4 linked regions of the Homo sapiens genome follow. The protein of the gene in region 4 interacts with the protein of the main gene of each other region in a biochemical or structural test. Each region holds a gene or a part of one and is shown on either strand. Other genes may lie near its edges.

Evidence for each region. Proteins that work in one complex are often made in the same cells at the same time.
Region 1: of the proteins of XIAP (region 4) and PTPN11, one has a biochemical effect on the other in vitro, tested with the Homo sapiens proteins (one study listed by BioGRID).
Region 2: the proteins of XIAP (region 4) and PGAM5 form a complex in vitro, tested with the Homo sapiens proteins (2 studies listed by BioGRID, with this or other methods).
Region 3: the proteins of XIAP (region 4) and KCNJ6 form a complex in vitro, tested with the Homo sapiens proteins (one study listed by BioGRID).

The regions. Positions count from the first base shown.
Region 1 is NC_000012.12:112,421,947-112,425,446, forward strand, and holds part of PTPN11 (tyrosine-protein phosphatase non-receptor type 11), read left to right. Parts: intron 1-3,500. UniProt on the Homo sapiens protein: Acts downstream of various receptor and cytoplasmic protein tyrosine kinases to participate in the signal transduction from the cell surface to the nucleus. Positively regulates MAPK signal transduction pathway. Dephosphorylates GAB1, ARHGAP35 and EGFR.
Region 2 is NC_000012.12:132,713,842-132,717,341, reverse strand, and holds part of PGAM5 (serine/threonine-protein phosphatase PGAM5, mitochondrial), read right to left. Parts: intron 2,485-3,500; coding exon 2,306-2,484; intron 1-2,305. UniProt on the Homo sapiens protein: Mitochondrial serine/threonine phosphatase that dephosphorylates various substrates and thus plays a role in different biological processes including cellular senescence or mitophagy. Modulates cellular senescence by regulating mitochondrial dynamics.
Region 3 is NC_000021.9:37,622,958-37,626,457, reverse strand, and holds part of KCNJ6 (G protein-activated inward rectifier potassium channel 2), read left to right. Parts: intron 1-973; coding exon 974-1,299; 3' UTR 1,300-3,500. UniProt on the Homo sapiens protein: Inward rectifier potassium channels are characterized by a greater tendency to allow potassium to flow into the cell rather than out of it.
Region 4 is NC_000023.11:123,863,053-123,866,552, forward strand, and holds part of XIAP (E3 ubiquitin-protein ligase XIAP), read left to right. Parts: intron 1-3,500.

The sequences.
Region 1 (3,500 bases), on a different chromosome or scaffold from region 4:
GTATTAATTCATTCAACAGGAAGTTAATGAGCCAGGCAGGATAAAGCAGTAAGATAGGAAAATATTGCTATTTTCATGGCTGAGAGAGAGCAGACAAACACATGACTAAATAGGGCAATTTCAGGTAGTAATAAATTCTAGGAGGGAAAAAATCCCACAGAAATGTGAGGATGGGAGAATGCAGTTAGTTTTGATAGGTGGTTTAGAGAAGGTGATCGTGTGAGCTGACACCTGAATGACAATTAGTAGTCTGAATTTTGTTTTGCTTAATTATCAAAATAACTCCTCTTGGGTTCGGCTTTTATATGCATCCAGTAATTAAAATGTAAGTATATTCAATGTACTGATATCTCTCAGCATCATAGGTAGGAAAACTAAGGCATTCAGCAATTAAGTGACTCCTCCCTTGATCATGTAGCAGTGATAGTACTGGATTTAGATTTTGAGGTTGCTTCTCTGCCCTTTTCTGCCTTTGTGAAACCAACAAAGCTGCCTGTATTTTCCAACTCTTCCTTCAGCATGTGGTACCTCCTTTACATCTGTTTTTGTTGCTCTGAAATCCATACGCGACGATGAGCTGAGAGGGGCAGAAAATTGAGCTTGTTCTGAGACTGGAGGCTTTTGGTTTATCTCTTGCAGGTCAAGTACATTTTGTCCTGGGCTCTCCCTGGTGGCCACGTTTGTTTATCTCCTGCGGGAGTAAATAAACTTGCCTTGCTGAAAAATAACAGTTCTGTGTCTTTGCAGTGGAAACTGGGATGTCTTTATTAACGTTAGGTCCTGATGTAAGGCCAAGTTTTTGGTTAGAGTTGCTCAAGTGCAGAGGCCACTGCTAAGATGACTTACCCCTCGTGTCCATGGTCAATGTGGAGACTGTTATGAGTGGCACATGATGCTGGAAAAGCAGAGCCAACTCATGTTTGTAATTGTCCTAGCAGGCCGTGGTGTACTTTGTTAGGCAGCCACAGAACAATAGAGAAACTCAGCTTATTCCCCTTCCCTCTGGGAAACACAGACAGTACTTGCCATCCAACGCCAATGTTTTTAAGGAAGAAAGAGGCAAAAAGTGATGTTGGCAAGGTCTCTGGGAGTTGTGGACCCCAACCAAGGATTGGAGACCCTGAAATGGATTCAGATGCCCTAAAATGCAGCCCAGTTCATTACTATGAATTTTGGAGGACTTTGTGCCTTGAGCAAATGTGTATATGTGACGCTCTTTGACAACACTGAAATAGGAAAAATACTATCCATGTTCGCGAGGAGCACTGAATTTAGAGAGGGAGACAGACTTTTATGCCAGCATCAAATGAATTTGATAAAGCTAGTACCAAAATGAAATTTGAAATTTTTTTTTTTTGAAATAGAGTCTTACTCAGTCACCCAGGCTGGAGTGCAGTGATACAATATTGGCTCACTGCAACCTCCACCTCTTGGGTTCAAACAATTCTTGTGCCTCAGTCTCCTGAGTAGCTGGGATTACAGGTGCGTGCCACCATGTCTGGCTAATTTTTATATTTTTAGTAGGGATGGGGTTTCACCATGTTGGCCAGGCCGGTCTTGAACTCCTGGCCTCAAGTGATCTGCCCACCTTGGCCTTCCAAAGTGCTGGGATTATAGGCATGAGCTACCACACAAGCCTGAAATTTGAAATGTATTGGTATAGAATATACTGTTTAGAATGTATGTGTATATATGTATATTTGTATACTCATATAAACACAAATACACATTGTATGTGTTTCTGTAATATGTATATCTGTCTACACATACATGTATATACACACATACAATGTCTTTTTTTTTTTTTTTTTTTTTTGAGACAGGGTCTTACCCTGTTGCCCAGGCTGGAGACTGCAGTGGCATAATCTTGGCTCACTGCAGCCTCGACCTCCTGGGCTCAAGTGATCCTCCCATCTCAGCCTCCTGAGTAGCTGGGACTGACTACAGGCACGTGGCATCAAACTTGTCCAATTTTTCTATTTTTTTGTAGAGTTAGGGTCTTGCTCTGTTGCCCAGGCTGGTCTCAAATTCCTGGGCTCAAGCTGTCTGCCTGCCTCGGCCTTCCAAAGTACTAGGATTACAGATGTGAACCACTGTACCTGGCCTTTACAATGTCTATTTTAAAGATAATGGTTCAAGTTTTTATCATCCCACTGGCCTACTCTAATGAAACATCTATCCATTCATTGAAGAATTATTTATGGTGGGATAACTCTGTGCCAGGTACCGTGCTAGGCATTGAGTATTCCAGGTTTTAGGAAACAGCACATGCAAAAGTGCTGAAGTGGGAGAAGATCTCGGAGTGATTGAAGGCTAGGAGAGAGCAAGTGTGGGAGCTGTGAGGCTGGGAAGGTGGGAGGTAGGTGGGAGCAGACCACATAGGGATTCTTAATGTCTTTAGTGTCATGTGGACCATGGAGAGGAGTGTAGATTGTATTTTTAGAGCAATGCAAAATCATAGAAGGATGTGATCGGGGGAGTGGCATGAGCTGATCTATTTAAAAATATTTCTCTGGCTGCTGTGAAGGAAGGATTGTAGGAGGCAGGAGTAGATTCAGGGAGATGAGACAAGTGATGAGAGAGGCTTTGAACTTGGGTAAAAGTAGTTTGTGGAAAGTCTTTTTTGGAGGTAGTTTTTGTTTATTGCCTTGTCATCAAAGCAGAGATGCTGACCAATGAAACTCCATGAGAAAATAGTGATTTATAAAGACATATCTATGCACTGCCATTAAAAAGCTGCTTGGAAAAAAAGGATAAAAAGCTGCTTTAACAACTTTTTTTTTTGAGATGGGGTCTTACTCTGTCACCCAGGCTCACGACCTCAGCTCACTGCAACCTCTGCCTCCCAGGCTCAAGCATTCTCCCACCTCAGCCTCCCGAGTGGCTGGGACTGCAGGCACACGCCACCATGTCAGGCTAATTGTGTGTGTGTGTGTGTGTGTGTATGTGTGTGTGTGTGTGTGTGTGTGTGTGCTGGGACTGCAGGCACACACCACCATGTCAGGCTAATTGTGTGTGTGTGTGTGTGTGTGTGTGTGTGTGTGTGTGTGTGTGTGTGTGTGTATGTAGAGATGGGGTTTTGCCATGTTGCCCAGGCTGGTCTCAAAATGTTGCCCAGGCTGGTCTCAAACTCCTGAGCTCAGGTGATCCACCCGCCTCGGCCTCCAAAGTGCTGGAGATTACAGACGTGAGCCACTGTGCCCACCTAACAACTTTAAAAAAATTTTGACATTTAGTAGGATATTTATTGCATTATTGTTGAGATGGCAAAATATTGGAGACAACTGAAATGTTCATCAGTGGGGGGGGCTAGTTAAATGAAATACAGTGTAGCATGCATTAGAACACTTTTCAAGAATTTAACTTTTTTTGTAGCCTTTTACTTATAATGCTTGTCCCTATTGATGCCTTTTTTTTCAGCATGACTTACTCTTTTACTATAGGATATTAAAATTTAATTAGATTAGAAATGAGGAATATTCTTGTAATCTGTAGAAAGT
Region 2 (3,500 bases), on a different chromosome or scaffold from region 4:
AAACACCCCCTCCTCCGCCCGCAAACACCCCCTCCTCCGCCCGCAAACACGACCCCTGATCAGGCAGCAAGCTCAGCAAGCTCAGCCGATGGCTCCTGCCCGCCCGAGGCTTGGGCCAGAGGGGCCGGCACTCAACTGTCTTCACCCCCATACAGGAAAAAACATGCATCTGATTCCACCAATGGAGCAGCAAGCAAACCGGATGGTGGCTGGCGCTTGGTGGGGCCCAGGGGTGGTTTCTGGGTCCCCCCTTGTCACCCTCACTCAACTGTGTCCAAAACCTGAGCCTCACAGGCCCCCAACCACGCGCCATGGCGGAGGCCAACACAGCGGGACCTAAACACCCCAAGCTGCTATGTGGGGGCCGGACACCAGTGCAGATGCCTTTTCTCTTGTGAGCTTTTGCATCCAGGTGAAAACGCCTCAGGAAGGCCGAAGCCACTGGATGCAGCCACACCTGCATCTGTCACTCCACTTTCTTTGTGCACAAGCAGCCAGGACAGCTCTGGGGACTGGGGGGCGGCGTCTGTGGAGGACAGCCCTGCACATTTTTACTATCTGAACTTTTAGTATGTGCATGAACAGGCACTATCCCATTCGAAGAACTTTTCAAAATGTAAACTCTACCTTAGCCCACCCTGCATTTCCTTCTCTAGGCAGGCATTTCTTCTACAGATCCACCTGCACAGGGACACAAGGACAAGGTGGAAGGACCCTCCTGGACGCTGTCTATGCAGCATCTGCCAGTGGGGACAGGCGGGATCCTGTTGCTCAGTCCCGCCTGTTCAACAGGGCATTAAGAGGCAGAGGCCAGGCCGGGCGCGGTGGCTCACACCTGTCACCCTAGCACTTTGGGAGGCCAAGGCGGGCGGATTACGAGGTCAGGAGTTTGAGACCAGCCTGGCCAATATGGTGAAACCCCATCTCTACTAAAAATACAAAAAAAAAAAAAAATTAGGCTGGGTGTGGTGGCTCACGCCTGTAATCCCAGTACTTTGGGAGGCCGAGGCGGGTGGATCACAAGGTCAGGAGATAGAGACCATCCTGGCTAACACGGTGAAACCCCGTCTCTACTAAAAATACAAAAAAATAGCTGGGAGTGGCAGCGTGTGCCTGTAGTCCCAGCTACTTGGGAGCCTGAGGCAGGAGAATTGCTTGAACCCAGGAGGCAAAGGTTGCAGCGGGCCAAGATCACGTCACTGCACTCCAGCCTGGGTAACAGAGCAGGACTATGTCTCAAAACAAACAAACAAGCAGACGCCAGGCATCAGGCCTGTGAGTGCCACAGGCCGCAGAGAAGCGTCTTTGGCAGCAGGTCCAGGTGAGCAGCCGAGGGCACAAGCCACGCCGCTTTCCAAGGCATCAAGCAGGTATAAAATCACTGCTGGGATATGCACTGCATTTGGTCTCATGCAAACAAGATCTGTCCAACATTTGCTAAAAGTTAAGGGCTTTTTTTTTTTGAGACGGAGTCTCACTCTGTTACCTAGGCTAGAGTGCAGTGGTGCAATCTTGGCTCACTGCAACCTCCACCTCCCAGGGTCAAGCAATTCTCCTGTCTCAGCCTCCTTAGTAGCTGGGATTACAGGTGCCTGCCACTGCACCCGGCTAATTTTTGTACTTTTAGTAGTGACGAGGTTTCGCCCTGTTGGCCAGGCTGGTCTCGAACTCCTGACCTCAGGTGATCCACCTGCCTCGGCCTCCCAAAGTGTTGGGATTACAGGCGTGAGCCACCGTGCCTGGCCAAGGTAAGGACATTTTTTTTTTTTTTGAGACGGAGTCTCGCTCTGTCGCCCAGGCTGGAGTGCAGTGGTGCGATCTCAGCTCACTGCAAGCTCCGCCTCCAGGGTTCACACCATTCTCCTGCCTCAGCTTCCCGAGTAGCTGGGACTACAGGCGCCCACCACTGCACCTGGCTAATTTTTGTACTTTTAGTAGAGACAGGGTTTTGCCGGGTTGGCCAGGCTGGTCTCGAATTCCTGACCTCAGGTAATCCACCTGCCTCGGCCTCCCAAAGTGCTGGGATTACAGGCGTGAGCCACCGCGCCCGGCCAAGGTAAGGACATTTTGAAAAGCTTGTCTTCTGTCCAAGTTCAGCTGACAGTTACTGGTAATAATGTGTGATTCAGGGGTGATGGTCTCGGACATGGGCCCCAGGAGGCCCAGTGCCCCAAGCACTTTCAAGAAAGCTGACCAAGGGGGTCGGCGGAGGACCTGCACCCAGTCACATAACCAAGGCGCCAGCAGATATGCACCTGGCCACATAACCACGAGGGTCCACAGAGGATCTGAACCCACCACATACCCAGCGGGGTCAGAGTGCGGTCCTTCTCCAGGGAGCCATCCACGTGGTACTGGGAATGCCTGATGAGGAAGATGTGCCGCGTGGCCTTGGCTTTGTAGTGGTCCAGCTTGGACGCCAGCTCTTCTTCCCCAGATTCCACGTTCCTCTTCCGCACGTTGATCAGAGACAGTGGTTCTCGCCTGATGTTGAAATACAAGATATGTCCTTGAGACCTCTGTTCCCAAGTTTGAGTTTTTCTGACAAGATGTTATTTCCAAATTGTCAGACTATTTGGGAAGAGCATGGAGAGAAGACAAGGCCCTTGGCACAGCCCTGGGGAGGCCTCTCTGAGCATACCGCCACTCTCCCTCCCACAAAGCTAGTGCCAGGTCTGTTCTGAGTGATGCGCTGGAGAGCAAAACAGACAAGCAAAGCCCTGTGCATCTTCTTCTCTAATGAGAGGCAGACAGTGAACAGCAGGAGACAGACTACCCCAAACGCAACTGTGGTTACGGAGAACGCCAGGCTAGGAAAGAGGACAGCGGCTATCGGGGCGCAGGCGGAAAGTGTCCACGGGGCCAAGATGGGCCTCCCTGACCATGATGCTTCAGCAGAGCCTAGAACTGCAATGCCCAACAGCAGCCACTAGCTATGAGGATGTTTCAATTCAAAATTTAAGCAAAATTAAATAAAATTAAAACATCATGTCCTCAGTCATACTAAGCACATTTTAGACCCTCAGGCCGGGTGCAGTGGCTCACACGTGTAATCCCAGCATTTGGGAGGCTGAGGTGGCCAGATCAACTGAGGTCAAGAGTTCGACACTAGCCTGGCCAACATGGTGAAATTGCACCTCTACTCAAAATACAAAAATTAGCCGGGCTTGGTGGCACACGCCTGTGATCCCAGCTACTTGGGAGGCTGAGGCAGGAGAATCGCTTGAACCTGGGAGGCGGAGGTTGCAGAGAGCCGAGATCGTGCCACTGCACTCCAGTCTGGGCGACAGAGTGAGACTCCGCCTCAGAAAATAAATAAATAAACAAACACTCAGTGAGGAAGAAAACATTCCCATTATGAAGGTCTGTTCCAGAGCTGCTGGAATCTGAAAAAGAGTGGATCCCAGCACTTTGGGAGGCCGAGGTGGGCAGATCACTGGAGCCCAGGAGTCCAAGACTAGCCTGGGCAACACAGGGGGACCCCGTCTCTACAAAAACAT
Region 3 (3,500 bases), on a different chromosome or scaffold from region 4:
TTATCTTTAAGAAAAGGGAAAAGTGGCCAGGAGCAGTGGCTCACGCCTGTAATCCCAACACTTTGGGAGGCTGAGGCAGGCGGATTGCCTGAGCTCAGGAGTTCATAAACAGCCTGGGCAACACGATGAAACTCCGTCTCTACTAAAATACAAAAAAAAATTAGTCGGACATGGCGGTGTGCACCTGTAGTCCCAGCTGCTCAGAAGTCTGAGACAGGAGAATTGCTTGAATCCTGAAGGTGGAGGTCGCAGTGAGCCGAGATCGCACCACTGCACTCCAGCCTGGGCGACACAGCGAGACTCCATCTCAAAGAAAAAAAAAAAAAAGAAGGGGGAAAAGCTTTTAAAGTAGTTATGATTGCACAGTCTGAGCAACTATGACCACTGGGCCTAAGTAAAGTGCAAATTCAGGTGGGTGACCCTTCCAACTGCATCTGGAGCCACAGTCATGGCCTGTGTGTTAATGGCAGGTGGGAGGGTAACACTGATCTGTGGCCTCTAGCTTAAAAGCAGCCTAAGTGTAGTTCCATATATGAAATTTCATTCTAAGTCTGTGGCCAAAGAGCTCAAATCCCATTAGAACCCAGGCTAAACCTCCAAGAGCAGTAGGAGGCCAGAGTCATGGCTTCAGGGTTCTCCCAGAGCAGAGTGGACCAGACATAGCCATGCACATGCGAAAACTTGTGTGCATTTGCACACTTGATTTCCTTTGCATGTGCATGGCCATGCAGGCAAATGTGGCTTGATGTGGGCCAGGACTCTCTCATTGTTCCCCAGGACTCCCTTAAGAGGCCTGGAATCTCCATGGCACATTAGCATGTGTCTACAACATGAATGACACCTACTAAGTGTGGCATCGTATGCAGGTCAGTCTCAACAGCTGCATGCAGTACTCCTCCTGGCTCTCTGTGACTCCTTGGCCATGGAAAGCCCACACTTACATATGCTAAAGCCTCCATTCTTCTCTCTGCAGGGATGACATGCCAAGCTCGAAGCTCCTACATCACCAGTGAGATCCTGTGGGGTTACCGGTTCACACCTGTCCTGACCCTGGAGGACGGGTTCTACGAAGTTGACTACAACAGCTTCCATGAGACCTATGAGACCAGCACCCCATCCCTTAGTGCCAAAGAGCTGGCCGAGTTAGCCAGCAGGGCAGAGCTGCCCCTGAGTTGGTCTGTATCCAGCAAACTCAACCAACATGCAGAACTGGAGACTGAAGAGGAAGAAAAGAACCTCGAAGAGCAAACAGAAAGAAATGGTGATGTGGCAAACCTGGAGAATGAATCCAAAGTTTAGTGCCCTAGCTGGGCAAACCCTTCTCTTCTCCCCCCAACACAATCTTTCCTTGTCTCTCATTCTCTTTCTTTTTCTGTCTCTCTTGCTTTGTTCTTTATTTGTTTATATTTAATTTTTACATGACCAGAAAACAAATCTTCAAGGTGTAAAATATCTACCTGCCCTCTCTCAGTTATTCAGATTGACAAGGTAGACATGGATTTGATGAAAGTGCAAAGTGCCCTCATTTGTGGCCCAAGCCTGGTCTCCTCCCAAAATACTACACATCCAACTCCTGGAGATTTCAGTTACTTACCTGCATGTGTTGTACAATACCAGATCACTCAAAAAGGTGTGTCAAAGATTTTACCTGGGATATGACAAGCAAGGTTTCTGGTGCCTATTTATTCATTCAGTGAGACACAGAGTGGAGCCCTCAGTTTTATGGATCCCAATTCATTTCATCTACTACAGGGTGAGGTGCTTGCCCCCATGTGGGTGTGGCAGTTACAGGGCCCAGGTGAGCTGAAGACAAACCACTGTACATATATATGCCTTATGTAATTATTTTCTTTTTGTAATTAGTAATAAAACCCAGCATGTACAAAAGTACCATAGAACAGAACTGCTAAATACTGTACATAGATGTATCATTAATGTAGGTTTAGATATATAACTTTAGAAATAAGAAGCAAAAAAAAAAAGAAAGAAAGAAAGATTCCTAACATGCAGTAGGCATTTCTGTTTTGATGTCTGTGTTTTCCAGGTTATTTTGATCCAGTTGACGGCTGGCCCTTCAGTGCATGGCCTTTGTTTGTGTCTCAGACTGGCAGACGTTAGGGTACCTCACTGTTCCCACACGGATCCTTTCATTGAATCCAACAAGCCATAGGTCTGGGGGAAATTGAGAGGTCTGGTAGATGGCAAAACCCACCACCAATATGCTGATATACTGTGAAATGTTACAAAACAGATGTCTTTTTTTAAAAGATAACAAGGGCCTCACTAACTGGCCTGGAGGAGGGGGAATACCAGGAAGGAAATATTCTCTAGCCTGTCACCAAAGGTATGTTTTTACTTTTCACATGAGCTCTTGCCCTTTGTAGTACAATAATTTAGGAAACTTTTCTGCAAAACCATTGATTCTCCAGCTGTAGTTTCTCTACACTCTTACAATGAGACATGGTAAGTTAGCAGAAGATGGTTTGGGTCTAAAGCCGTGAAATTCACAAAGGCATGTAGTGAGTGGCATGCATTATAATCATCGACCTCTCACTTTGACTCTATCTGGCTTTCTGAGAATGACATCTCGCCTGTCCCTGGGGCTTATCCATCAGCATTTCTTGCATTGTGATCTTTTATTATTTTGAAATGACCAGAGTTCAGTATTCAAAGATTAGATCAACAATCTTGATGATTGTCTAAGAAATGTCTCTAGAGTATGCCACAGGCTAGAAATCAAATCCAGTGTCTGTCAATCAAAAGAAAACAAATAAAAAAATTCCAGCCTTAATTCACTTTAATCTGCAAAAAGGAAAGAAGGGAGGAAGGGAGGGAGGAAGGAAGGAAGGAAGGAAGGGTATTTGTACTGGAAATCTGAATTTTAAAATGAAAAAAATAAGGAAACAAATCTTAGATCAAACCTCCGGGGCAGGTGGAGATTTTGCACTGTTACAGATCTTTCACATTCACTTTGCATTTATAAGCTGTTTGTTCTTTAACACAGTTGCCCATCATAAATATTCATTGAATGGATCCAAGTTTATTTTCAGCTCCTACAGCTGTGCTCAGTTTGAGGCTCTGCACCATGGAGGTCAAAGAGATCAAACTAGCTGTCCCTCTTTGTTTCCCTTGCCTTCCCTGACCTGATCGCACAGGCCTTTGGTGTAGTCTGGGGACCTTGTCTACTAAAAAAGAAGTCCCAGGATAAGGAAAGTGGCTCCTAAATATAACCTCGGGGCCTCTCTTCTCCCATCTCAGAGACCTTGGATCAGGACAACTGCCTCTTGGCACTGACTTTAAGGAAAACAAAACTGTTGGCTATAGCCCTTTCCTGTTTGCCAGCATTTCCTTTTTTGCATTGAATCTCTGTTGAATCATTTCTTTATTTCGCACACTCTAAGAAGGAGGTGGTGGTCCGGGAGGAGGAAGCTCGATACACTCCCCTTGAGGCTGCGGGGAGGAGCCATGGCTTGACCTCTCTGCAGCCTAATGAAGGGCAC
Region 4 (3,500 bases):
GTACTCCAGCCTGGGCGAAAGAGTGAGACCCTGTCTCAAACAAAACAAAGAAACAAAAATCTGAATTGTAGACTCTTTGTAGATAAGAACATATTTTTTAAAAAAGTTAAGACTAGGGCCAAGTGCGGTGGCTTTCACCTGTAATCCCAGCACTTTGGGAGGCTGAGGTGGGCGGATCACCTGAGGTCAGGAGTTCAAGACCAGCCTGGCTAACATGGTGAAACCCCATCTCTACTAAAAATACAAAAATTAGCTGGGTGTGGCGGTACACCCCTGTAGTCCCAGCTACTTGGGAGGCTGAGGCAGGAGAACCACTTGAGCCCATGAGGCGGAGGTTGCCGTGAGCTGAGAACGCAACATTCAACTCCAGCCTGGGCCACAGAGTGAGACTCCACCTCAAAAACAAATAAAAAGTTAAGACTAAAACAGTTTATAGTGATTAGGAGTTCAGCTGTCTAGTTTTGTTTTTGTTTTGAGATGGAGTTTCACTCTTGTTGCCCAGGCTGGAGTGCAATGGTGCGATCTCGGCTCACCTCAACCTCTGCCTCCCAGGTTCAAGCAGTTTCCTGCCTCAGCCTCCCGAGTAGCTGGGATTACAGGCATGCGCCACCACGCCCGGCTAATTTTGTATTTTCAGTGGAGACGGGGTTTCTCCATGTTGGTCAGGCTGGTCTCAAACTCCCGACCTCAGGTGAAAAAGTGCTGGGACCTCAGGTGAAAAAGTGAGTCACTGCACCTGGCCCAGCTGTCTCGTTTTTAGAAATAGATTAAGACTCAAAAAAAATATTGCCCACCGTAATATATCTGATTATTAGCAAAGCTTGGACTAGAGTCTAGGTTCTAGTCTAGTGGCCCTTGTACTATACCTGTAATTTTATTGCTTTCTAGTGCATTGGATGATTCCAACTAGGCTGACAAAGTAATAATATCTAAAGGTTAGCCAGGACCATTTCAATAGTTAAGAATTATTATTTTTTTCTTTGGTTTTTATTTTATTTTGTCTTCCTTTTTTTTTTCATTTTCAGGAAGTGAGCAGTTTCTCAAAATTATTATAATTAATGGACCAGCTAATTTGTATAGTGCTTAAAATATTTTAGTAACATAAATTTTACTAAATAAATTTACTAATTTAGTAAATAAATGTTCTCCTTTTATTTCATTGTAAACATTAATTTCTTTAGTAAATCCTGTATTTATATTGTAAATGTTTAGCGATAAAATAATGATATTTCACTGTTTTTGTTTGGTCTAATATTTAAGTCTGGTAGGTAGTATTAGCAGAGAGCAAAACCTACAGTTTATGAAATAAACATTCATTGAGCACTTAATGTGTTCCAGGCATTCATTGTAGTATGTGGTAGGATTCCAAGGATAAATATGGCAAAACAAATGCCTTTCTTCTGTTTTTTTTTTTTTTTTTTTTTTTTTTGAGACGACGGAGTCTGGCTCTGTTGCCCAGGCTGGAGTGCAGTAGCGCGATCTTGGCTCACTGCAGGCACTGCCTCCCGGCTTCACGCCATTCTCCTGCCTCAGCCTCTCAAGTAGCTGGGACTACAGGCACCCGCCACCACACCCGGCTTAGAGTGTGTGTGTGTGTGTGTGTGTGTGTGTGTGTGTGTGTGTGTGTGTTTTAGTAAAGACAGGGTGTCACCGTGTGTGTGTGTGTTTTAGTAAAGACAGGGTTTCACCATGTTAGCCAGGATGGTCGCATTCTCGTGTGTGTGTGTGTGTGTGTGTGTGTGTGTGTGTGTGTGTGTGTGTGTGTTTTAGTAAAGACAGGGTTTCACCGTGTGTGTGTGTGTGTGTGTTTTAGTAAAGACAGGGTTTCACCATGTTAGCCAGGATGGTCGCATTCTCCTGACCTCGTGATCTGCCTGCGTTGGCCTCCTAAAGTGCTGGGATTACAGGCGCGAGCCATCACACCAGGCCGCCTTTCTTCTTTTTTTTTTTTTTTTGCTTTTTTATGTTCGTCTGTTTTTATTTTGCTTTTGTGTGTTTGTTTGTTTTTCCATTGTTCTTTTGAGGCTGGGAGATTATCATGAGCTGTCAATTCTCAAGCTTTATCTCTGTGAGATAATCTGGTAATAGTTTTATAAAATGTAACCTGTTAGCACTATTAAAGGACATTGTGTGAGTAGATATGAAGAGACAAACAGTAGTGATAAGATAAAAAATACTTTAGAATTTAACAAATACTGTTTCTGTATCTTAGAGGTCATGTGCTACAGTGTTTGGAAAGAGCCCTACGTTGGGTACCACAGTACAGGTTATTGACTTTGTTTCCAATTAGCTGTGGGATTGTGCATGTCAATGACCCCATCTTTCTTTACATGTTCACATTTTTGATATGTTATTTTAGGTGTTGAATTCAAAACATAAAAAGGGTATTTTAAGGCCGGGCGTGGTGGCTCACGCCTGTAATCCCAGCACTTTGGGAGACTGAGGCGGGCGGATCACGAGGTCAGGAGATCTAGACCATCCTGGCACCCCTCTCTGCTAAAAAAAAAAAAAAATACAAAAAATTAGCTGGGCGTGGTGGCAGGCGCCTGTAGTCCCAGCTACTTGGGAGGCTGAGGCAGGAGAATGGTGTGAACCCGGGAGGCGGACCTTGCAGTGAGCCGAGATTGCGCCACTGCACTCCAGCCTGAGCTACAGAGCGAGACTCCGACTCAAAAAAAATAAAAGGGTATTTTGAATATTTTATTTTATTTATTTGTTTTTGAGACATTGTCTTGCTGTGTCACCCAGGCTGGAGTTCAGTGCATGATCCCAGCTCACTGCAACCTCCACCTCCTGGGTTCAAGTAATTCTGGTGACTCAGCCTCCCAAGTAGCTGGGATTACAGGCGTGTGCTACCACACCTGGCTAATTTTTTTTTTTTTGGTATCTCTTTTTTTCCCCTCGGAGACAGAGTCTTGCTCTGTCGCCCAGAGCTGGAGTGCAATGGCTGCGATCTCTGTTCACTGCAGACTCCGCCTCCTGGGTTCAGGCAATTCTCCTGCCTCAGCCTCCCGAGTAGCTGGGATTACAGGCGCACGCCACCACAACTGGCTAATTTTTGTATTTTTAGTAGAGACGGGGTTTCACCATGTTAACCAGGTTGGCCTCGAACTCCTGACCTCGTGATCCACCCACCTCAGCCTCCCAAAGTGCTGGGATTACAGGTGTGAGCCACCACACCCAGCCTTTTTTGTATTTTAAGTAGAGACAGGATTTCACCATGTTGCCCAGGCTGGTCTTGAACTCCTGACCTCATGTGATCTGCCCGCCTTGGCCTCCCAAAGTGCCAGGATTACAGGCATGAGCCACTGTGCCGGCCTTTGAGTATTTTAAGTTATAAAAGAAATATGTGTTTCTATATATATTATATAATATATATTATACATGATATATAATATATATGATATAAATTATATTATATACAATATATTATATATGATTAATATATAATATATGATATATCATATATAATATCAAAATATATAATATGTATATAATAA